Linked DNA regions of Homo sapiens: regions 1, 3, 4, 5 and 6 are each linked to region 2. The links come from fine-mapping of genetic effects on gene expression. A gene starts in region 2. Each other region holds a variant in brackets. All regions are shown on one strand. Distances are between the middles of the regions. Region 1 overlaps TRPM8 (transient receptor potential cation channel subfamily M member 8). Region 2 holds the start of ARL4C (ARF like GTPase 4C). Region 3 overlaps LOC105373933 (a long non-coding RNA gene). Region 4 has its middle 16 kb from the start of LINC01891. Region 5 has its middle 120 kb from the start of SPP2. Region 6 has its middle 28 kb from the start of LINC01891.

What was found.
Region 1: its variant is fine-mapped to the expression of ARL4C in whole blood (INTERVAL, PIP above 0.99).
Region 3: its variant is fine-mapped to the expression of ARL4C in whole blood (TOPMed, PIP above 0.99). The same link has a PIP of 0.9 or more in left ventricle.
Region 4: its variant is fine-mapped to the expression of ARL4C in whole blood (TOPMed, PIP above 0.99).
Region 5: its variant is fine-mapped to the expression of ARL4C in tibial nerve (GTEx, PIP 0.97).
Region 6: its variant is fine-mapped to the expression of ARL4C in whole blood (TOPMed, PIP above 0.99).

What each region holds. Positions count from the first base shown.
Region 1 is chr2:233,988,721-233,992,808 of GRCh38, reverse strand. The region is part of intron 21 of TRPM8 (transient receptor potential cation channel subfamily M member 8); the gene reads right to left. Among named protein-coding and RNA genes, the nearest start is that of SPP2, 60 kb to the left of the region's middle. RefSeq lists an enhancer at 2,233-2,282. The variant C/G (reference allele first, on the strand shown) is at 2,091.
Region 2 is chr2:234,495,204-234,499,291 of GRCh38, reverse strand. ARL4C (ARF like GTPase 4C) reads left to right here and starts at 2,211. Exons shown (of 2, transcript NM_001282431.2): 1 at 2,211-3,280; 2 at 3,456-4,088. The coding sequence starts at 2,706. The coding sequence ends at 3,486. RefSeq lists an enhancer at 1,176-1,949 and silencers at 2,134-2,423, 2,534-2,633.
Region 3 is chr2:234,290,262-234,294,349 of GRCh38, reverse strand. All of the region lies in intron 2 of LOC105373933 (a long non-coding RNA gene), which reads left to right. Among named protein-coding and RNA genes, the nearest start is that of LINC01891, 160 kb to the left of the region's middle. RefSeq lists an enhancer at 3,338-3,387. The variant A/G (reference allele first, on the strand shown) is at 2,360.
Region 4 is chr2:234,436,584-234,440,671 of GRCh38, reverse strand. No RefSeq gene overlaps it. Among named protein-coding and RNA genes, the nearest start is that of LINC01891, 16 kb to the left of the region's middle. The variant C/T (reference allele first, on the strand shown) is at 1,874.
Region 5 is chr2:234,163,983-234,168,070 of GRCh38, reverse strand. No RefSeq gene overlaps it. Among named protein-coding and RNA genes, the nearest start is that of SPP2, 120 kb to the right of the region's middle. RefSeq lists enhancers at 3,387-3,887, 3,383-4,088. The variant C/T (reference allele first, on the strand shown) is at 2,416.
Region 6 is chr2:234,424,127-234,428,214 of GRCh38, reverse strand. No RefSeq gene overlaps it. Among named protein-coding and RNA genes, the nearest start is that of LINC01891, 28 kb to the left of the region's middle. RefSeq lists an enhancer at 1-758. The variant C/T (reference allele first, on the strand shown) is at 1,929.

The DNA of each region.
Region 1 (4,088 bases), 510 kb after region 2:
CATGCCCAGGGTCTCACCCGCCCCATCTGAGATGGTTCTTAAAGTCTCCTTGACAACCAGTGGCCATCTGGTGTTGTCCCTGAGAGAATTCTGCAATTTTCCCTTTGTGCATCTCCAGCGATATCTTGTGCCCTTGGCGTCCTGTCCCTGGCAAACACCTAGCTGGCTGGAGACATGCAGTGACAGCTGAGGTCCATCTCCTGAAACCAGCTGAGCAGGAGAGGAGGAGGAAGGAGAGGCCATGCAGAGGGACAGCAGTTCAGAAACTCACTGAGAGTGGAAATGGTACCAAGAGGGAACAGACGTTTAGAATTCAGATCACTTTGTACATAAATGAAGTCCAGAAGTACCTTAAAAGAATAACACACCATGACCATGGAATAGGATGACTAAATATTAAGAACATTTATGTCATTCATCTTTTGTACAATGCATCATAATACTAGATCAAAGGGAAAAATAGCATTTCAATAACTGCTAGAAATCTTCTGGCAACATATAACATCCTTTTCTGATTAGGAAGAGAAAGAGAAAGGAGCTTAATAAACAAAAAAGAGGAGGAACTTTCCATGACATGATAAAAAGAAAAAAAAAGAAAAGTAATTTAGTAAGGAGACTCATTCCAGAATAAATAAGGAAAACTTTAATAACCTTCTTACGTACCAAAACGTAGTCACTGAAAAAACATAATAGAAAAAGTACCTTACTTTTTTCCCCCTACCATAAGTGGCTGGAAACAAATTAACAAGGAATCTGCCAGATCCATATGAAAAAGACCATAAAACTTTACTGGGAAATTATATATGTTTGAATAAATGAAAATCATAGCATTTCTTCTCAATAGTAAGATGCCAAATTCCCTTAAATGATTCTACAAACCTAACATCATCATAATAATATTCACAAGAATTTTTGGGGGAAGGAGAAAGAAGAAAGAATCCACAAGATAAGCCTTAGGCTCCTCTGTACAATTAAATATACAAGAAATGCCAGAAAAGTTTTGAATAAGAATAATGAGGGAAACTTGTACAACAGATGTTAGAACGCCTAAAAGAAAAAAATACTTCAGTAATCAAAGCCATTTGGTAGTAAAAACCAAAATACAAAGACAGATCCACAGAACAGAATGCAAAGTCTGCAAAAAATTCACAAGGAAAAAGTAGATGCTAAAACAATGGCAGAATTTTCAAATACACTGAAATACAAGAAACTTGTCAGCTAATTCCCTATCAGATGGACACCTCCTCCAAACTTTGCGTAGATTTCATGGATTTTCCTTTGTCGCTCCTTCCCCAGCACACAGGCAGTATCTAGCCAGTACTGCCCCATGGCCCGTGGTGACAGTGACTTTTCGCTCTCTCTGATGCGCTGGTGTGTATGTTAAACTGTGTAACACATCCTGGTTCCCCTCTCATTCTGCAACATCAAAAAAGCAGGTACAAAGCCAACAACAGCCAGCAGTAAGAGATGACAAGCGATTGGATCACACTGATTTTGGAATTGATAATTCAGGTTAGTATATTGCTAACAGAATAACCAACTAAGACTGTGCCATATACTTGCACGAAGACCCATGACATTTCTCTTCAACTTCAGGAAAAAGTCCAAATTCTTTAATATACTATAAAAGACTCTCCATAACCTAGCCCCTGCCTACATTTCCACCCTCCCCGGCTGCTGATTCCTCCCTAGACTAACATTATCTCCCCTGCTTCTACCTCTCCTACCAACACTTGGGGCTCTGGGTACATGATCTTTCAAGCAAACATCACCTCCACCTAGCTGCTGCTGCAGATCCTAGGCTCCCCCAGCCAACAATCTCACAATTAATAACTCCCTCCTCTGCAAATAGCCTCTCCATGCTGTTTGTATTACATTATATTATATATATTATATTCATATGTTTCCATGTCATCTCTTCCCTTAATATCAGGGACTTAACCTTTCTCTGCCTCCCACTCCTTACGTGTAAAATGGCAATAAGGCTGCACCTGAGGCAGGTTAGATGAGGTGGTCAGAGCCTCCCTTGACAGGAAACAAGAAACTTGTCAAATTGATGAAGAGAACAAACCACCTAACAGTGCACAGAC[C/G]GCATCCTGAGCTCGTGGTTAGAACACCCTACAGCAAAAAGGCAGGAGCAGAAGAGAAAAATCCCCACATTTGTACAAGCACAGAAACCCGTGATTAGTGTCCTTGGGCTGACCTGTGCTCATTATAATAGTAAAAAACACACCCCCAGGTGGAGATTTAAAATGCTTATAAGACATGCGATGGATGTACTAGCATGTACAGCCACTGCACATGTGGACCTAAGAAACCACTCCTAACATGCTTAATAGCAACACCCCTTACCACCCCTTCATGAATAATCATGCAAATTTCCCATAAAGGGAGATCCCCCAGTATTAGACAGAGCTGTCTTGCCTTTGAGTGGCCCGTTCTGACCGGCTGCTAGAGTGTACTTTGGCTTTGCAGTCAACTCTCTTGCTTGCTTTTGCTTTTGACTCACTTTCAAATTATTTTCTGTCCCAAAGTCAAGAACCTGAACTAGCCCACCGGCTACACACCTACACAGAAATGAGTAATAATTAAATGAGGCGACCCCTGTAAAGCACTTGAACCTGTGCCCAGCATGGGAAAGCTTCAATAAATATTAGCTATTGTTACTATTACAATTATCTGCGCTCTTCTTTCTATTCTTTTCACCCCAATTCAATAACCTCCCTTAGACTGTTCACACAGCACTCAAACCTTTAGTTTGTATCAGGTCATTATTTTCTTCCTTCTACTTTTCTGCATGTTTATATTACTCCTAAGATCTGAAAAACATTTTTAGAAATTATTCTACAGCAGGACATGTTTGACGAGTCCTTTTCAGAACTGCCTGGGGTGAACTTATCTTCAGGGCACAATGCTTATAAATGCCCTAGCTCCTGGTAAGTCGACCTGGAGTCATTTACTGACTTTAAATTCACTTCCTGCCGCTGATAAGCCACACAGGCCCTGTGATCGATAATTTTAATGTAGAATAATCACAGATGTTCACATCCATTTCCTTTCTCTGTTGAATACCATCTAGAGAGCACTCCAATACTCCTTCAGAATTCCCAAAGGTACATTTGCATTGCAGTTAATAAGGTTGCCATTGTGTATGGTTAAGCTTTTAAATGAGTATTTTGATGTGGTGCCAGGGAAGGGTCACATCCTGGGGCCATCTGCTCACAGAGTAAGCCCTGAACAACTTTAAAAATGATCAGAAACAGTGTTCCAAGGATTTAACCTAAGGATAACAACACGGCGTCTCTCGCTGTTCTGGTGTCCCCAGACAGGTATTAGCCAGGAAAAGGCCTCTGGTTTAAGCCGGAGCTAATCGAGGAGGTTCCCCAAGGACAGGGATGTTGCAAGCTGTCACACTTAAGCACTGACTGGGGCAACAGTAGGATGTGATGCAGTGGCTCTGGCCTCGTGGGGAAGAGACCTGAGTTAAGCCAGATAACGCGCGGCCAGGACCACAGACGCTGAGCTGCTGGGACTTCATCTCCTTCACCTGAAAGTGACAGACGAGGCTCCCATCTTTCTCAGCTCCAAATTCAATCATTTCATTATCAAAATGCAGGTAATGGATTACAAAAGTGCCCGGTTCTCATGAATGGCTCCTTCAGACAGCTCATGTGCATAGATTCAAAAAAGCTCTAAATATTTTACCATGTGCCTCGTTGAGATTTACCAAGTTAGCATAACTCAAAGGCCATGGTTTTAGGAGCTGTTGGTCTTTTTGTTTAATGTCTGTAAATATAGTTAGTGGTGAGTTCTTACAGGACTATCCAGTGTAGCTATGACATCTTATCACTGTAAAGAAAAGCCTGAAGCCATCCCACTTCGCCCTCGCCTTTGCTTCAGGTTTTGGGATTGGTCTGTTTTGCTCCCTCTCTTGTGGAGACATAATCACCCATAACCTGCTGCTTCTCTCTGCAGCTCAGATGTTGGCCCCTCTGACTTTTGGACACTATTTGGACATCATGACATTGGCTGGCTGCCTGTGAGTCAGACAGGCTTCTGGATCCTCAAGTCCCTCCCTGCCACCAGCT
Region 2 (4,088 bases):
CAAAATCCTGTCTCCCCAGGGTTCCCAATAACGGAAACATCATCATTATGAATTATGCCAACATATGTTGTTTCTGTTGCCTCACTAGAGTTGCTCTTTTGGTGACAGATCCTGGATTCTTCTTGGAGAACCACCCTTCCCGATTTCAACCCCTGGGCCACATCCACTGGTGTGTTCCCTCCTCCTGGACTGCAGTCCTTGATCCAGGGTGCGTGCTCCAGGCTTTGGTTAGAGTTACTGGGAAAGAGTTGTACCTTTTCCTTTCCAGGATCTAAACCAAGGATGTGAGTCCAAGGCTGCCAGAAGGAAAAAGAATCAACACAGGGGAACACGGAGGAGGACTGGAGAGACACCTGCTCGAAAGACTCCTTTTGAGCTCCTGGGTCTAGCCATGCCTGAAGAGGACCTTTATCCTTAACTTTTCAGTGATGTCAGTGAATACATTTCCATTTTTATTTAAAATGAAGTAAGTGGCACAGTGCAGCCAATATTTTCTGTTGAACTCTATCCTTCGGGTGGCTCACTTTATTCCTCATTGAAGGAAATAGCGTGTGGGTAGAGTGGGATGTGAGGAAGAGGGCAGGCAGGTGCCCAGTTTTGTGCATACAGACCCTTGGTCCTGGAGCAGGCAGTGGGCCTCTAGGTTCTGCCTTAGCCGTCACGGGCGCCTAGGCCTTGTTACCTCACTGGACAACGTTGGGTGGAATGATAGGCAGGGTCCTTTCCAGCCTGATACTTCGTTTCCAGCCCCAAATCCACTCAGTAGAGTGGATGGTCGCTCCGGCTGCCACCTTGGGAATTCCAAGGATAGGGGTGGTGGTGGCTTGTCCTTCCTTCTACAGGTGAGGTCTTCTCACATGCTTTGGTACCAACGATATCATATGTCTTTTCGTGGTTTGTGAACAGAAGGTGATAAAGTATTTCTCTAAAATTCTAGCTTTTATTCATAAATTCTTAGCATTTTCATTTTCTTCTCCCTTGACCCCGTTTCCGTCGTTTCTGTCTCATAAGCTAGAGCTGGGAAGATGCGGTCGCCCATGCTGCGGCCTGCTGTCTCCTGCGGAGCAGCTCTCCCCAGATCTGTGTGTTTGCCATAATATACTCTCACTTTTCTCCGCACCCAGAGAGGATATACATTTGTTACATGTTTACAAACCAGAATAAAACCATTGAACTGAGGTGACAGGAGGTGGAACCCGTGGAATATCAGTGTTTGTAACCCACTGCGCCACCAGCTCCAAGCTGTAGACACATTTTCTTTCAGCCCCCGGGGCTGGTGTTGCCATTTCTGCGGAGTAGTTCACCTGCGGGCAGGTGGTTCTCAGTTCCCAAAGTCGGGTGGCAAGGGGTGCTCTCCCGAAATGCTGACGCTTCCCCTGGGATGTCAGCAGAGTCGATGCGGACGAAATGAGGTAGCCCAGGCGTGTCTGGGAGGGTGAGCTGTCCGAGCTACTTGGGGCAGGTAGGTCTTCTAATCCCCCATCGCGGCCTAGGTCCGACCCTGCCCCAACCGCCGCCACCGGGCAAGAAAGGCTGGGCCTCCAGGGTGCCCTGGGCACAGGCCTGGGCTCCGGAGGGCGGCGCTGGCCGGGTGCAGCCCCCTGGAACCCAGGCAGGAGGCGAGCCTGGGCGTCACTGGGGGCCGGGGCCGGCGACAGCCGCGGCGCGAGGGTGGGAGGGGACGCGCCCGGCTGGATCCAGAGCGCAGGCTGGCAGCTCACCGAGGCCAGCCCCGTCCCGTCCCTTCTGGGGTTTGGAGGCCCCAGCCTCGCCGCCCTCACTCCCCAGAGCGGCGCTCTCCCAGTCACCCTGGGGGCCGCCCTGCCCCGCCTCGCGCCCACAGAGCTGGGACCCCGGGACCCACTCCCTCAGGCAGGCTGCGTCGCCCACGGCTGCGGCCCGGAGGGGCAGGGGGCGGGCTAGGACCCGGGCGGGGATTCCGGGAGCCGAGAGCTATTTTTGCAAACGCGTCAGCCGCTGGGGAGGAAGAGCCGGCTCCGCGCCCATTGTGTCTGCGCGGCGCGGCGCGGGAGGGGCCGGGGGGCGGCGGGGGGCGGCGGGGACGCAGCGAAGCGCGCGAAAACGGCCGGCTGGGCGGGGAGGACCGCGCCTGACCCCCGGCGGCGGGCGGGGCGGGGCCCGGGGCGGGTCCGGGGGCGGGTCCGGGGCGGGGCGCGAGGGGGCGGGTCCGGGAGCTCTCCGGCCGCTGCAGGCTGGCGGCTGCTGCGGCGGCGCGGGGACTGTGAGGCTGCCGAGCGGACAGCGACTCCCGGGGAAGCCCGCGCTCCGGGAGCGGGAGCGGGAGCAGGAGCAGGAGCAGCGCCGTCCCAGGCCAGAGGCGAGCGCCGGGCGCCGGGAGAGCGGAGAGCCCGGGCAGCTGCCGGAGCGCGGGGGCGCGGCCCGAGGAAACCACAGAGCGAGCCCAGGCCTGGGGAGGGCGCCGAACATCTGAGGCGGCTTCGCGGGAGACAAAGCCGCGCGTAGAGACGCGATGCCCGCCGATCGCGAGCCCGGCCGGCGAGGGCGCGGGGACTGCGGCGTCTGAGCGCGCCAAGCCGTGCGCCCGCGGGGACGCCGAGCCCCGGGGCCGGTGCGGGCGGCGGCGGGCGGGGCCCAGGTGCGCCCGGCCGCGTCGGGCCCGTGACTGCTCGGGGGGCGGCGCCCTCCCGCCGCAGCCGCAGTGGCTGGCGCCGCAGCCAGGAGCCATGGGCAACATCTCCTCTAACATCTCGGCCTTCCAGTCCCTGCATATCGTCATGTTGGGCTTGGACTCGGCCGGCAAGACCACGGTGCTCTACCGGCTCAAGTTCAACGAGTTCGTGAACACGGTGCCCACCATCGGCTTCAACACCGAGAAGATCAAGCTGAGCAACGGCACGGCCAAGGGCATCAGCTGCCACTTCTGGGACGTGGGCGGCCAGGAGAAGCTGCGGCCGCTGTGGAAGTCCTACAGCCGCTGCACGGACGGCATCATCTACGTGGTGGACTCGGTGGACGTGGACCGGCTGGAGGAGGCCAAGACGGAGCTGCACAAGGTGACCAAGTTCGCCGAGAACCAGGGCACGCCGCTGCTGGTCATCGCCAACAAGCAGGACCTGCCCAAGTCGCTGCCGGTGGCAGAGATTGAGAAGCAGCTGGCGCTGCACGAGCTTATCCCGGCCACCACCTATCACGTCCAGCCGGCGTGCGCCATCATCGGCGAGGGCCTCACCGAGGGCATGGACAAGCTCTATGAGATGATCCTGAAACGCAGGAAGTCCCTCAAGCAGAAGAAGAAGCGGTAATGCGCCCGGAGCGACCGGGGAGCGAGCGAGTGCGTCAAGAAAGAATGAATGGATGGATGGATGGTTGGATGGATGGATGGATGGATGAGCGAGAACCCGCGCCCGCGAACAAAGAGCGAACCAAAGCGATGCTTCGAATTTTTAAAACGGAATCTCTGCACCCAAATGCAGGACTGGTGACTTAAGGAGCTGCGAAGTCTGATTTACCGGCCTACTCTCGACCTGCCCCCCACCCCCAGCTCAGGGGACCTTTTGTCTGAACGCCAGAGCTACTGACCAGGTCGGGGGGCCGCGGTGGGGAGTGGAAGAGCCGGTCCTGCTGTCCGCCCTCCCAGCCCCAGGTGGAAGGCTCAGTTGTCGGAAAGACAAAAGCGATTTCTTCCCACTCCTGCAGGGCCAGAAGTTCAGGCTGCCCCGCCTCCACTGGGGGATCGCACCTGTGAATTACCTGAGGTATGCATTTCCCAGAACCGTGGGCGTACCCACCTTGGGGGGCATGTTGGTTCTGGGGGGACCACCTCTCCTTGCATTCAGGGGCTGTGAAGCTGAGTAATTTTCGGTCACAGGGCAGGCCCCTGTTGAAATTTCATTTGTCCTGCTCTGGGCCCAAAGGTGGTGGTGGTTTGGGTCATCAGAGGACTGCCTGGGACGGTTCAGCGGGCACGGAGCGCTGTGCTGGCCTGGCTGGGGATGGCCGCGGAGGTGCCCTTTTCCTGGTGCTTTGTGGTGGCTGCAGAAGACCAGTTTTGTTGAGAACTGCTTTTCAGCCTGGAATCAGACATCTTCCAGATGGTTTGGACCCTG
Region 3 (4,088 bases), 200 kb after region 2:
TTTAGACTTAAAGGTTAATGAGTAGGGCTTCTTCAGGCAGAAAGGCAAGAGGAGCCCTCCCAACCCAGCCCCCAACTCATCCCCTGGCACAGGAGGACCATGCACCTGGACAGGAAGCCTGGGCCAGCTGTGTGGGCAGAGAAGAAGGTGGATGAATGAGGAGGTACACAGGAAGGTAGGGGATGGATGACTAAGAGCCACAGAGGAGCTCAGAACTGCCCCCTGTGGAAGTCGGGGGCGTGAGTGATAGAAACTCGGGAAGGATTTTGACCCTAAACCTGACATAATTAGCAGTGTCTGTTGAGGAAGGATCAGCAATGCAGAGAATAAACTGAGGGGTGGGGAAAGACTGTACAGAGGGCGACTCCTCTGGAAGATGATGAAATTCTAAACAAGGGCAATTATAGTTGAGACAAAACCAATAATGGATTAGAATTTCAGCTCCCCAGAGGGCTTTCTGGGGGGGCCATTCCTGTTTTCCCCTAAAGAAAATAGTGGGCCAATAGTAGTATATAAATATTTGTTGAATGAATGAATCAGGAAAAAGATACACTATATTTCTTTCTTTCTTTTTTTTTTTAAAGACAGTTTTAGCTCTTGTTGCTCAGGCTGGAGTTCGGTGGTATGATCTCAGCTAACTGCAACCTCTGCCTCTCGGGTTCAAGTGATTCTCCTGCCTCAGCCTCCTGAGTAACTGGGATTACAGGCACCCACCACCATGCCTGGCTAATTTTTTTTGTATTTTTAGTAGAGATGAGGTTTCACCCTGTTGATCAGGCTGATCTTGAACTCCTGATCTCAGGTGATCCACCTGCCTCGGCCTCCCAAAGTGCTGGAATTACAGGCATGATACACTATATTTCTTATAATGTAATGCTGGAAGGGCCTGATGAGTTCCTGAATGTAAAAGGTAGTGATGGAGGATTTCAGAAAGGCCACAAACAATAATTCCTCAAAACAATGACATCTCAATCAGTAAATTCATCCAGTGTTGCCTCATACATTTCTTTAAATATTACTGCATTGCAGTGATTCTGGTTATAACTCTACAGGCCATCAAAATATTTTCAAAGGCCACTGTTTTTCTTGTAAATGTGAACATACGCATTGTATAGAATAAACTCCTTGCTAGGATTAATAAAAAAGCTTTTTTTTTTTCCTGTTTGGTTTTCTTGTAATTTTAGTTTTTTTTTTTTAATACAGAAGTGTTACATTTTTATCCAAACATGACAAAGTATCTCTTTGATATCTGATACTTCCTCAAAACTGAACCATTGTTTCAATGTCAATTTCCTCATGCAAAGTGTTATCACTGGGGGAAACTGGGTGAAGAGTACACAGAATATAATATTTCTTACAACTGCAGGTGAATCTACAAGATCTCAAAATAAAAAGCTATTTTAAAAGCCTGAATGATTCACCTTCCTCACTGATGATCTTTCACACTGTTATGTCAAAAGGAAATCTTGGATTTACATACAGCCCCTGGAGATGGTTCATTGTCTTGTCATTTCTTTTTCATTGAGCCCAGAGGAGAAGATTGTTGCTATGCTGTTGTCATTGCAGCTTTTCTTTTTTTCAGTTGCATTTCCAAAGTAAATATCTCTCTTATTTGCAGCCTCTAAATTGCAAGATTGTCGCCATGGTTATTCTTGCTGCTCCTCTGAGCTTTATCACTTCCTCTCCGGATGCGGTTTGTTCTGCTTGTAGGTTTGCCTTCGCCTCAAAGGAGCGAAAAATGAATCATTTCAGAGTGCTCTGTGCACCAACATAGTGCGATGTTGTCTACCTTTATATGATTCAGTCGAAACGACATGGAAAAGTTCCTGGTTTAATTGATATGGTCCTCTGATTGTTGTTGACAACTACAGATACACTGTCCTAGCCATGTGGATGGCAAAAGCAGCCCCATATATGTCATCTGGGGTGGCGTTCAGGTGGTGAAGATGGGAATTGGTTGTGCAGACAAAAGTTTTGCCTGAGTCTCTTCCTGTCCTTTGCTCTCCTCTTGTTGATTCTGCGAGGATGTCTCTGGTCTTGAGGCATCCTGTGGCTCATATGGTCACCTGTGGCCCTCCAGACTTTATCACCACCAGGCTCATTCCAGAGGCCAAAATGCCAGTGGTTAGAGGGTGTCTGCATCTGACCTGCAGGAGGTGAGATACTCTTGGCTGGGTGTGTCTGGTTGCACGAACACCCTATAGTCCATTGCCCTGTTTATGTGTTTTCTGTCACTGTTGCAGCCACATCCTTCCTGGGAACTGTAGCACAGCCTCCCAGCTGACGCCCCTGAGTGCCCTTTGGCCCTTCTCCAATCCATTCTCCACAGGCAGCTGGAGCAATCACTTTAAAATGCACA[A/G]TTGATTACATCACACCCTTGCTTACTGCCTTTAGTGACTCCCACATACCTAAAAATAAATCGAACTATGGCACGTGCTCCCCTGTCCCCTCCACCACACATGCCTGCCAGCTAATGGTCCCATCTCTGCAGGACACCCTCCAGCTGTGTGCATCAGGCACATGCAGGCCAGGGCCCCTTCAGAACAACTGTGCAGCAGCCATAGGCGCAGCATGGAGCCCAGGGATTCAGAAATGGGGAGGAGTTGAGCTTGGTGTCCTTGCCAGTGTCCTATGAGTTTAGGAGTGTGATATTATGAGATAAATATTTGGCCTTTGAATCCATTTCCTGACATACACCTCCTAAAATCCTTAGAATCTCCAAAGTGATGTACTTTTGAATGCTGATGAGTTGGCTGATGGCTGGCAGCCCCTAGGTAGCTTCAGGGTGAGGCTGGTCATTGGAAAGACCAAGGCAGGATTAGAGGGTTGAGATTTTCAGCCCCACCCTGAACTCCAGGGAGGGGAGAAAAGCTGAAGGTTAAGTTGACCATCAATGGCCAATCCTGCCTATGTCACAAAGCTTCCATGAAAACCCAAAAGGACACAGTTCTAAGAATTTCTAGGTAGCTGAACCCATGGAGGTTCCCGGAGAGAGTCACACTCAGGGAGAGCATGGAAGCTCCGCACCCCTTCCCCTATACCTCGCCTATCCATCTCTTCATCTGTATCCTTTGTAACATCCTTTATGGTAAACCTAAGGGTTTCCCCGAGTTCTGCGAGCCACCCTAGCAAATTAATAAAGAGGGGGTCTTTATCAATTTATAGCTGGTTGTCAGAAGTTCCCGAGGCCTGTACTAGTGAGTGATGTCTGAAGGTCAGGGGTGGTCTTGGGGGACTAAGCCCCCAACCCCTGGGATCTGACGCTGTCTCCAGGTAGAGAGTGTCAGAACTTAACTGGAGGACCCCCAGTTCATGCCGGTGTCCATGTCTGGGCAGTTTGCTCGGTGGTGGGGAGAAATCCCCACACATTTGGTCGTAGAAGCCTTCTGTGTTGATTGTTGTGGCGCGGCGTGAGAACAGAAGAACTGTTGGAGTTTTTTCACCCTCAGAGAGTGTTCTCACTTCTGGCTCCACTTCCTCCCAAGGTGTCTGGGGCACGAGTTCTGCCGGATGGCAGCGTAACTGGCTTTGGTGTTGATTTATGAGTCACCACTGGGGTGAGATGAGGGAGGCAGACTCAAGTACGTGATTACAGGGCACCAAGAGACCACCTGCCCAACAGATCTTCACTCATTGCCTTACCAAACCTGAAATTACCTTAGCAAAAGCAAGTAAATGTGGCCACTCTAGGGCCCCGACCTGGATTCCTAGCCAGACCAGCCACTGGTGCTCTCTATCTGATGCAGCCAGGTTGGTCTCTCTCAACCTCCCCAAACATGCCCATGCCTTCCTGCTCCTCTCTACCTGGGCATGGGCTATGCCCACCTCCAGGAGGTCCACCATGAAGGCGTGAGCCCAGTAATATGGAAATGTCTGTTATCAGGGCCTTTAGGGTATCCTGTGATGGTGGGAAGGGGATGCTAGCACGGGGCCAGGAACAGCAGGAGGTTTGAGGCTGCATTGGAGAAGGACAGAGCTGGGCTCTTGAATCCTAAGGCTTTCATCTCAGGCATGAATCTGGTGACATCAGGACATTCTCCAGAGCCCATTGGTACAGGCAGATTAGGGCAGGTTTGAGAGATTCTAGA
Region 4 (4,088 bases), 59 kb after region 2:
AGACGGGGTTCATCCTCCTTTTACTCTCCCAAGTGTCCAGTTTGGACAATAAACTCTGTGGTCACTCTGCCTCTGAGGCATAGGGAGAGGGTGGTGTCGAGGATAAATGTGGGCCTGTGACTTACACTCTGGAAAGACAGCAGTGCCATTGCTGAGATAGTATGCATGGGTGGATGCCATGATTCTACAGGTTGTCACGTCACAACCACTTTCGCTCAGAAATAAGCCGGGCAGTGCTGCAGGCTTAAGGGTGTTGGAATTTGTCTGGTTGGTCAACTAAGCAACGGGCTGCCCACCAGCATCAGTAAAGACAAGCACCATCTATAACCTTGGGCAGTCCTACCAGCCCTAGTGTGTCATGTGGTCACCCAGGCTCCCTGCCGACTATGGCCACCGTTCCCTGGCCACCTCCTCACATAGGAAACACATGTTGGTCTCATGAGAATTGTATCCCCAAGCACCATTTCCTCTTGGGCTCATGTGGCCTGCACACCCATCCCTCCTGTCCATGCTGATGGTGGGAAGACGCTAGCGAGGATAATCCCATAGCAAGAATCTGAGAGAGCCCAGGTGGGCACAGAGGGACAGTGACAGAGCCTCCGAAAAGGAGGAGAACAGGGGAAAGGGAATTATTTTTGCAGGCAAGGGAACAACAGCACAGATTTTGACCTACTCAATTACACTCCAGAGTGTGCACTTGCTTCCTGCCCAGCCACATTCTCCTGGTAGACACCTGATCCCCCTGTGACTTCGCTGCTGAAAACTTTTCTTTCAGATCCCCTTTGGCCATTGTCTGGGTGCTCCCAAGAGTCTTCCCTTCAATCCTACTGGGGGTCCCCAGCACCCTGGGCCAGGCCTCTCCCCATATTACCAAAAAGGGTTCAAACTGTTCCCATGAAGCCAACTCTTCATATGGATGGGATGGGATCCCTCGTTACTGAAGAATCACCAAGTCAAGTGAAGCATGAGCTGTTCCCCTTGACCTTGTCTTCTAATTGATCATCGGTTTTTCTTATCAGTTTGTGAGATCTCCTTGTACAATAGGCATATGAATATTTTTGTCTGACATGTGCTGAAAATATTTTTCCAATTTATCACTTTTCATTTGATTAGGTGTATGGTATCTTTCCCTAGGTTATATATATATATATATATATATGATAGATACAAATGACAAATACATGAATATAATTGCACATACACAGTGATTTCCTGTCAAGAGTAATATAGTCTCCCCATGTATAGTTTTCCTTGTCTCTAATTTTATTAAATTGTGTTTACATTTAGATCTTGGATTATTCAAAACATCGCACTATTTCTTCAATCACTCCCAAAGACAATTTATAAAAAACTTAACAGAATCTGATATTTCTAAAATAAATCACTCCAGACCAGTATCTTTTCTCTCCACCCCTCACCGAGACGGAGTTTTGCTCTTGTTGCCCAGGCTAGAGTACAATGGCACGATCTTGGCTCACCGCAACCTCCACCTCCCGGATTCAGGCGATTCTCCTGTCTCAGCCTCCTGAGCAGCTGGGACTACAGGCGCCCGCCACCCCACCCAGCTAATTTTTGCATTTTTAGTAGAGGCGGGGTTTCACCATTTTGGTCAAGCTGGTCTTGAACTCCTGACCTCAGGTGATCCACCCGCCTTGACCTCCCAAAGTGCTGGGATTACAGGCATGAGCCACCACGCCTGCCCTCCAGACCAGTATCTTATGTGAAAATATTTTATTGTATTCTAAGAAAACAAGATTGAGAGCAGAATTGAAATTCTACCCCGCCTGCCCCCGCCCCCCGCAGGCTGACTTCTCCAGCACAGCCCCTCACCTCCATTTCCTCTCCTACCAAAAACATTAGTCTTTCTTCTATC[C/T]CTAGACCAGCCCTGGGTGGAAAGACTTATTCGGATCTAAATTTTGAGCTTCCTGTTTCTTGCGGAGTTGATTTACGTTTCACTTTTCTGTTCTAAAAGCATTATCTATTCATTGTAGAAAACAAAAGTGTTATAAATAGTAAAGCCTCCACAAGCGGACATTGTTGGAGGTCTCAGCATCTGACTCTCGCCTCCATCTCCAGAGCCATGTCTTTCCCCGTAGCTGCTATCCAGGGATGGGCCCCCAGCCCGCCGAGAGCCAGGAGACCAACGGTAGCCTTACCTGTGGGGAGAGGCAGCCCACTATCCTTCCAGTCCCTGAAAGCTACTGAAGGGAACTCTGCTGCTCTGGCGGTGGGGGGTAGGCAGCCTTCAGCAGAGGAGGCAGGGCAGCACCCAAGGCCCTGGAGGGGGAACCCAGAGATGCCCTTCAGGACATGTTGTCCCAGACCTGAGTGTCTGATCTGCTAATGCTGTTATGCAGAAGGTTGGGATGAAACGCCCCACTTGCCCCACTCACTGGAGCCACATAAACCACCTGAGCTGGAGCGGGTGTCTTAGTCGGGCCTGCCAGGTGGCTGGAGGATGTGGGAGAGGAGGCCTGCTTCTCGTCCAATTCTCCTCTTCTTTGTCCAGAAATAGGCACACAATGAGGAAGGCGTCTGATTCCAGATGGCAATTGTCCCAGAAAAGCAGGTGCCCTGCACCAGTGTGGACATGCATGCGCATTAATCTAGCCATTTCCATTCAGGGTGCCCACGCCTTACTTCAGAAGGGGGCTCAGTTCATGAAAGGTGGAAGGAACCCAGGAGCGGGAGAAAAGAGTGCTGATGAAAATGGTCTTTGTTCTAAAGAAAATCCCCAAGGGAAGCATCGTTTGGTCGCTTGGTTTTGAATGGATGGAGCACAAAGCAAAGCCTCAGATGTGGTCAGTTGGGAAGGGAAGCACTCAAGCTGAGACAAGCCACTGCAAGAAAGCAAGTGGAGGGGCAGGTTTTCTTCTGCCCTCTCTTCTTCAACCCAAGAAGAGCTACCACATATTCACTGAGTACCACCCTGTGCAGGGAGCAAGGGCTGGGTGGTGGGAGCCTGCAGCCAAAGGACACGGGCATCCTAGGGACAGAGAAAACAGTGCCAACCAGGGATCCCTGTCTACAGCGTGGGAGATGAGGAGCAGAGCTGCTTATGGTCCTGAAAGAAATGGGTCTGAAGCAGAAGAAGAACACTTCTTAGGGTGGCCACTGCAGCCCGTTTGAGGGTCTTTCCCAGCCTGTGAATGCAGACAGATCAGGAGAATTTATAGGAACCAAATACGGGGGACACCACTCTCCCCTGCTCTCTCTTCCACCAAGAGAAGCAGTGCCATGGTGCCTGTGGTTATGCATGCTTGAAGGTCCTCACTTGGTCTGCTTCTTGCACTCTCTGCTGGTGGTGTTCCCTCGGGTACCATGAGCAGGGGCACCCACAGGGAGAAGAGGCCAGGGTGAGGCTCAGAGCCAAGGCTGATGCCTATGAAGGGAGGCAGCTGAGTTGGAGGCCACAGCGTGGATGGTCCCTGTCACTGGGGAGGGACAGCATGTGGAGCTTTCAGCTTCTCCCAGGGTGGGTGGTATCACTCAAGGAGGAACCAACAAACCCCACTCTTTCCCTTTCCCTCTCTCTTGACTTCCCTCCATCTTTCTTACCTTTCTTCCCCCCGCAAACCTTTATTGAGCACCTACTATATACCAGGGGTGATTCTAGGAGCCGGGGAAAAAGCAGTAAACAAAACAAATGCTTGTCTTTGTGGTACTTATACTCAGATGGAGGACAGGTCAAAGAAATACTTTGATGTTAGAGTTCAAGACAGTGCACTGCTTGACAAAGAAAGAAGCAAGTCAAGGAGAGAGAGGGCAGGTGGAACCCGCCACAAAGTGGCCTCTGTGTGGAGGGATGTGGAGCGACTGCACCGTCCCACTCGGTGTCCGTGTGGGGTCTGGGGCTCAGGACAGCCAGCACAGGGACTCCAGGGCTCCCCCATACACTGTGTGGTGCCTAAGGGTTCCAGTGGGGCAGCCCAAGTGTGTGCACTGACCTGGGCCAACATGCAGGGCCCTGTTATGCAAGGGAGAAGGAGCAGGGACTCGGGGGGAGCGGCGCCACAGGCATTCTGGTGTGGTTTCTCCAGACCCGCCTGCCTGGGAGGAACCTGATTCTGCAGCTCGTCACCCCTCAG
Region 5 (4,088 bases), 330 kb after region 2:
CCTTCATATTTCTAAATAAGTCTTTATGCAGAAAAATGTATAATATGATGATATTTAGTGTTAACAATTTTTAAACAATTTTAAACCTAAGATAAGCACAATAAGTAAATTATGGTATCTCCATATGGCAGAATTATATATATTTTGCAATAATTAAAAAGCATTTGTGGCCAGGCATGGTGGCTCAAACCTGTAATCCCAGCACTTAGGGAAGCCAAGGCGGGTGGATCATGAGGTCAGGAGTTTGAGACCAGCCTGGTCAACATGGTGAAATCCCGTCTCTACTAAAAATACAAAAAATAGCCAGGCGTAGTGGTGTGTGCCTGTAATCCCAGCTACTCGGGAGGTTGAGACAGGAGAATTGCTTGAACCCGGGAGGCGGAGGTTGGGGTGACCTGAAATTGCGTGACTGTACTCCAGCCTGGATGACAGAGCAAGACTCCATCTTGAAAAAAAAAAGTGTAAGGATTTTAATATTATTAAATATTTTGACACAAAATATATTATTTCAATATAGAATTTTTTAGTATCATAGAAAATAAGTTACGGTGAAGTTAAATGAAATAATAATATAAACCTATTAGGTTAATCTATATTAAAATATGCATAAAAAGTTTGGAGTAGTTACCTATAAGTCATTATAAGTGATTCTTTTTCTTTTTTGTGTGCTCATTTTCATATACATTTGCCATAGTGAGTGTGTTTTACATTGATAATAAACAGAAATTTTACCTTTAAAAAAAACCAATTCAGGTAGCAAAGTATACATGTAATGTAACAGCATATACCTTCCCATCCTTCCTTACATTGTGCCATGGATTTTATAAACCAGAGTGATTTGTGCGTGTGTGTCTAAAAACAGCATTTGCAAAACGAATTACTTTGGACCAAGTTTGTATCTACAGCATGAAGAGTAATCATTTGTTGGCTTGAAATGGCATTCTATTTTGCAGAGAGCTATGTTCCTGTGAGATATTGACTGAGGCCCTGTCTCAGCTTGAAAATATAAAATGTGTGAAATCAATCAATCAATAAGTACTGTTTTAATGATCATGATGTGCCTGTGATTGTACTAGGCACTGGAGGTTGAAAAGAAATTTAACCAGAGAGTTTTAGAGTTCCAAGAAGCATCAATGATCACTCATTTCAACCTTCTACCCAGAAAATGAATGTTCTGTATTATAAAGCTAGTTGGGCATTGTGATAAAGCATAACTTTGGTGGACTCCAATGATGTATTCACGTTTTATGTGGTTCTCTCACTTTGAATTTGCTCTGGCCCAGTGACCCTGCTTCAACCAACAGAATGTTGCAGAAGTGAAGCTACGCCAGTTCTGGGCTTAAACGTCAATCAGGCCTAGCAACTTCTCTTCTGTCTGGATGAAGGTAGACACAGCATAAGAACTACCTGTGACCATGATGCTCTGAGAAGCCAGCCTAACTATGTGCAGAGGCCACATGGAGGAAAACTGAGGCCTCCAGCCCACAGCCCCAGCTGAATTTCTAGATGCAATCAGCACTAACCTGCCAGCTATGAGTGAGGCCATCTTTGAAGTGGATCCCTCAGCCCCACTCAAGCCACCCAGATGATGCCATATGAACTGCCCCTGCCGAGCCCTGCCCAGATTGCAGAATCATGAGAAAATAAATTAAAAAGGCTTTGTTTAAGTCAGTAAGTTTAGGGTTAATTTTTTTGGACAGCAACAGATAACCAAAGCAGAATTCTAGTCTCAGCTTAAACACTTTTAGGAACAGAAGACTCCATGCCTCGTAAAGTAATCCATTCTGTTTCTTAATAGCAATAGTTATTAGAACATTGTTCTCTATATTTAACAAAAATCTGCCTTCCCATCACTCACAACCTGTCTCTATGGTAAAGTCAGTCTGTGTGCCTGCCACATGGCAGCTCTTCCAGTTTTTTTCAAAGAGTCATGGTCTTTATTCACCACACCTCCAGTTCCCATTGCACCCTGCACACCCAGGGTGCACATGAACAAGTCTTTTCTTTCTAGACATAAATATCTCCAACTCCTTCATGTCCCGATTCTTTCCCTAAACAGCTCAAACTCTTATTAGTAAACCAGATGCTACCTAGAAACACATGTGGGACCCCCATCACTGTGTAATAAAGTGATACCATCTAAAAGTGTTCCAGAGCCAAGTCGAGCAATCTTCTATACACATCCAGTTTGTCTTGTGGGTGGCGTGTATGTGTGCACATACATAAGGTTATTTTTGTTCTTGTTCTAAAATATTTCTGAGAGCATGGGAAATGGAATTACTCTGGTAGAACCACAAATTGAATAACTAGACCAGAATAAGTTATGGGCCTTGCATCTATCTGAGAGAGAATGGGTGGAATGTTCAATGTGGTCTCCCACAGCTGCAGAATGTGAGCCTTTCAATGTTTTCTTTG[C/T]CTTTCAATCCATGGCTGCTCGGAAATATTTTTCTCAGATATTTACTGACTAGGCCGAGCAAGGGGGTTGGGTTGATTGGAGGCAAGTATGGAAGCAAGGAGAAGAGCTAGTGGCTTGCTACAAGGAAGGCTGAGCGAGGCTGAGAACCGGAATAACAGGCACAGGAAAGGGGAGGGCCTGGGTGTCCCCATCCAGCCCTGGGGCATCCACAGAAACAGGGCCGGTGATGGTGCCTCCTGGAGGGGAAGACAAGTGGGGATGGGGAGGGGGGGCTTGGGGGGTGGGGGGTGGGCGGGACACTGTGAGCAATGGAAGCTGAAATCTAACACAGGAACAGAAAAGCAAATGCCACATGTTCTCACTTATAAGTGCAAGCTAAGTACTGAGTACATGTGAACACAGAGAAGAGAACAACAGACACCGGGGCCTACTGGAGGGTGGAGGGTGGGCGGAGGGTGAGGACTGATCAACTGCCTGTTGGGTACTACGCTTATCACCTGGGTAATGAAATAATCTGTACACCAAGCTCCTGCTACACGAAATTTACCCATATAACAAACCTGCACATGTACCCCTAAAAACAACAAAAAGGAAAAAAAAAAGAAAGGGAACCCGAGGGATGGATGCAGCCTTGGCTGCTTCCCTATGATCTCCATGGACCCTCGGCTGCTCGCCCATGATCTCCATGGACCTCTGAGTCACCTACTTTTATCCATCAGTGCAGAGTTGGCAATGCGATTTTAAAGCCTCGCCCCCAGGCTTTTCTCAGCTCCTGGCTTTTAGGTTCCAGTTCAGCGGACCCCAAGAGTAGTCACAAGAGCAAAACAGCTGAAAAAAGAGGTGAGATAAATCTCAAAGGGGAACTGAACTTTCTTCCTCCCCCTTATATTCAATCTGTGCCTGACAGCCATCCCTTGAGACCTGGCACTGGCCTCAGAGGAAGCAGGAAACCACGTGCCAGCCATCACCCCAGTGCCCTCACGGTGCAGTCACGGCGCAGCGGCTCGTTTACCCCAGTACCAGACTCTCAGCTGAGTGCCGTTAGCCCAGTTGACAGATGAGGAGGCAAAGACTCTGAAGGGCTACATGACTTGCTCATAGTGGCAGAGCCAGTATTCAAAATCAAGCCTTTCTTTGCGCTGCACCACTGGGCTGCTCTGATGGGACAACTGCCCCTGCTGTGTGTTTCAGAAGCTAAAGGTTTTGCCCAAGGCCTGCAAGGGGTGGTCTTTCCCTCAAGTAATCAAAGCCCCAGTAGGCCTTCAAGGTGCCTTGTCTCTTTTGTGATTTAGTCACCTACATGGAGAAACTCACAAATCCTCCCCCAGGACACGGCCAAGGTCATAAGAAGGTCACCATATAGAGAGCCTCAGTGTCTTGGCATTGGTGACCCAGGTCTGGCTCACAGCTGAGTTCATCCCTAGGTGGGACCGGTGCCCACGAGACCGAAGCCTTTGCCTCCGTGGCTTCCAGTTGGATTTGGTGTTGCCCGGGCTAGTCTCCTTCAGTCTTCTCCCCCTTATTCCTGAGGCTCCAGGGCTCCCGAGTGGGTCTCCAGGTAAGGTAATCACTGTGATCCTTTGTTGTAAATGAAATAGGAGAAGAAATGGGCTCCATCAAGCAGCAGCTAGCCATTGTGGCATGCATTATTTATGCGAAAGATACGAACATT
Region 6 (4,088 bases), 71 kb after region 2:
ACAAAACAAATCCTAAATTGGATTCTATGTCTCCAACAATAGGGAAATGATTAAGTAAATAACGGAAAGAGTTATACAACATTTTTTCAGGAATTTTTAGTGACAGTTAAAAACTTATTAAGTAAAAAAGTCAAGAAATAGATTTTAAATTACACTCTGATATCAAGTATGTAAAACACTTATGCTGAGAAAAAGACTGGATATAGCAGAAGGGTGGTCACCGATAAGGGGTGAGGCTTCCGGAGGATCGTGCGAAGTTTTCTGGGTACTTCCTGGTGTGACGCTGCATAGTGATGTGGTGAAAATGGCAAGTTCCTGGAGGGCTTGAGGTGGGTGGAAGTTTGCATTCTCAGGGAAATGCTTGGAATAGTCGTTGATTGGATGGTTCTCTACATTCTTCAGATTCCTCTGCAGAGTGCATTTCTTTCTCCCTCTCTCAAAGTGTGGATTAAATTGTTTTGAGCTGGTTTTGTCTGCAGCAATTAGTTATCTTAACTAAAGCTCATAAAAAAACAACAACAGAAAGGTAACATGAATGAAGGCCATGTCCTAAAGTTGTACAGGAAACAGACTAGGGAGCAGAGAAACGGGTGTGGGGCGGAGGGGAAAGGAAGGTGGGGGTGGAAGGTGGGGTGGAGGAGTCCAGCCTTCCCTTCCAGCAAACAGTAAGCAGCTTTGAGAAATGGGGAGGGGGCAAACTGATCTGAAATGAAGAGGATGGCCTCAAGGATGGCCCAGCTAGAGAGAGACCCACCATAAGTACTGCTCTAAAACCTTGGCCACTCCAGCTCTGGCCCCGCCATCAGCAACTGCTGGGTGTGTTAGAGACCCAGGCTCTCAAGCCCCAGCCCCAGGGCCCCAGAGCCTGCTTGTCAAAGGATTCTCCCTCGGTGAATTTGTGTGCATCAAATGAGTTTGATGCAACCCTTTCTGAGAGAGGGGGTTTCAGGCTCTGCCTGCCTGGAGGGTGAGAGGAAGTGGCAGCTCAGAAAAATCTAGAAGGGAGAGACGGGGGTCAGAGGATTTGCCGGACAGCCTGGCACCCAGAAGCAGCAGTGGCTGGCTCATGGTGCAACCCAGGGAGCCATGTGGACGATGGGGTCGATTGTTGACATCAGCACTGAGACGAACCCACCCAGCCTCATGTTAAACAATCAAATCTTAAATGATTGAGAGGTGCTTCACACTAATCTTGGCTCTTGAACAGTGGGGGCTGTTCCATAGGCTCAGTGTAATCAAGAATCATTCTTGCTCTGCTTCCGAGGGAGAAGGCGTTCACCTCTGCATTAATTTCAGCTGTGTGGGGAGACGTGCTCCCTGAATTTGGTTCCATCCTGAGTGGGAGGGTTGCTAGTCTCAGAAGCCTCTTCTAAGTTTCTCTTTTGACATCTGCTTTGGGCAACAACATGGCCACTGCTTCCTAGAGAAATGGGAAGAGAAACCCTCACAGTTCAGAGGGTGAGAGTGGCTGATCCCTCCCCCATCTGTTGACACTCCTGGAAACTTTTGGGGACTTCTGGGGATGGGGCAGAGGGGCCTATTGCAGAGGGTACATCTTCCCACAGGTTAGATGTTGACGCTCCAGCTGCCCCTGGCCACCGATGGCAGATGATTTCCTGAGCCAAGGATCCTTTCTTGGATTCTGGGTCTCCCTCACTTAGGAAGTAGAAGAGAAACTTTCATTTCCAAAGTGTTACTCTGCCATGAAATCCATCAATGTGGAGTGGCAGAACAGAGAGCTCAGCAGTTCCATTATCTGATGGAGCTCAGACAGTGCAGAAAAACAAAGTGTTTCCCTTCTCAGTGTGTGTGTGTGTGGCTTTTTTTTTTTGGGGGGGGGGTGGTCATTGTTAAACTGACACAAGGTGACCTGATAGGGGAAGGAAGATCTGTGATTCATTAACACTCTCTCCCTTCATCTTTGTAAT[C/T]GTCATCATTTTCATTTCTTCCAGCAGTCTCAGGACCTGCCTCCAAAGGCAGGTCCTGAGGGTTCACAAGAAACCTAGAGCTGGGCGAGCTTGCTTCCCTCCTGCTGGGTTCAGCCCTAACTGCCTCTTCCTCAGCCCCGCCCTGCACACCTGCAGTTAGGGCACCGAGGCAGCCCTAACGCTTCTGAGGAAGTGGGTTTTGTGGGTAGGTGGAGTTCTATGTCCCAGAGGGTGAGGAACTGGGCACCACACCCATCCCTGTATGCAGTGGGTAGAGTGGCCTAGAGGGCCAAACCTGGGAGGAGGGTAGGGAGGACCCTCTCTGGCCCATCCTCTGCTTCTTCCCGCATGCCCCTGAGGGCTGCGTTGATGTCCTCATTTCCATATAACTCCAGTGACACAGAAGCTCCTTGTGAAGTGAGCTTTCCTGCCTAATTGAAAGACACCAGCAGAACATGACTCAGGGTGGCAGTCGTCCTGCCCTGGCACTAGGCAGGTCACCCAAACCTCCTTGTTCCTCCAGATGAAGATGCTAAAGCCTGGCCAGGTGAAAGAGGAAGAGGCAGGTCACCCAAACCTCCTCATTCCTCCAGAAGAAGATGCTAAATCCTGGCCAGGTGAAAGGGGAAACTCAACCCCAAGGAGTCAGGTCCAAAGGGACGGGTCCCCAGGGACTAACTGGGACAGGGGTCTGAAGGGACCACCAGCAGGTCAACCCACCCACCAGCCTCACCCGTGCTGTGTCCCCAGACATGAAGCCAAGAGAGCAAGTTCCCTAAATTCCCTTCCCACCTCTGCCACGACCAGCTGGGTCTTATAGTCACTCCCTGCCCGGCCTCATTCCCAATAAAACCCAACCACCAGGGGCCCCGCCACTGGCTACCACTTAGCTCGCTCTCACCCCCATCCCTGTGACCTCCCCCAGAATCTCCTATGGCTTTTCCCACCACCCTCCAACCATTACCAGTGAGGCTTGGGCCCAGGGTGTGTCCGGGCCTCTCTTGCCACCCACCACCCTTCATCTTTGTAGCCCGCTTTCCTGCAAGAGGGAATTCTCTCTTCCCATTACAACAGGGCCTGTGGCTTGAGCACCCAGGGTGCATGTGTACAGACTTGGGGAGCAGGGGCTCAGCTCCAGGCACTTCTAGGACCCTGGACCCTGAAATTTATATAGTGTTCCTTTATCTGGTAGCTCATGTCACTCATTAAGAGTTGTTCCATTTCTGGTGGGGTGCGGTGGTTCACGCCTGTCATCCCAGCACTTTGGGAAGCCGAGGCAGGCAGATCACCTGAGGTCAAGATGAGCCTGGCCAACATGGTGAAACCCATCTCTACAAAAATACAAAAATTAGCTGGGCATGATGGCAGGTGCCTGTAATCCCAGCTACTCAGGAGGCTGAGGCAGGAGAATCGCTTGAACCCGGGAGGCAGAGGTTGCAGTGAGCCGAGATCGCGCCATTGCACTGAGCAACATGACTAAGCAAGACTGTCTCAAAAAAAAAAAAAAAAAGAGTTGTTCCATTTCCTAATTTTGAAGGGTTTCATTTTACAAAGATTTGGAATGTGTATTTCTCCCAGAACAATAATTTCTTTTTATTTGTTGAAATGGTGTAAGCAGAAGTGTCATGCTAAATGTCTGTACATGGTTTCCATTCTCTTATGTAAACTCCATTTTTATAAATAGAGAATTCAATTTGATTCAACTTTAAACAGATGCTACAGTTAATTTTGAGCAATTGTTAATATGTGTGGGAACATGCTTTGAAAATAAGTCCGTGATCCCAATCTGTGCTCTGAGTGTTTTCATTGAATTGAGCACAGAAGTCCAATTCTGGAGAGATGAAAACACAACAAAGCCAAGATGATTTGAAACTGGCCTTATCTAAAGTTTTGTTCCTTTAAAAAATCAAAACGTCATTTATTTTCCTTCCACCCCAGCCCCCGTCTTCCCAGCTTTGATCTTTCTACTTGTCAGAATATTGCATCAATGACACTGGAAATATTTATTCAACAAATACCTATTAAGCCCCAATTAGAGGCTGGATGTTGCATTTGGTCCTGAAAATTAGACAAATACGTTCCCTGTTCTCAAGGAGCTTATAGGCCTGGGTAAGGTAATTGCAGACACCTGAAGTATAACATACACCTGAAGACTCTAAC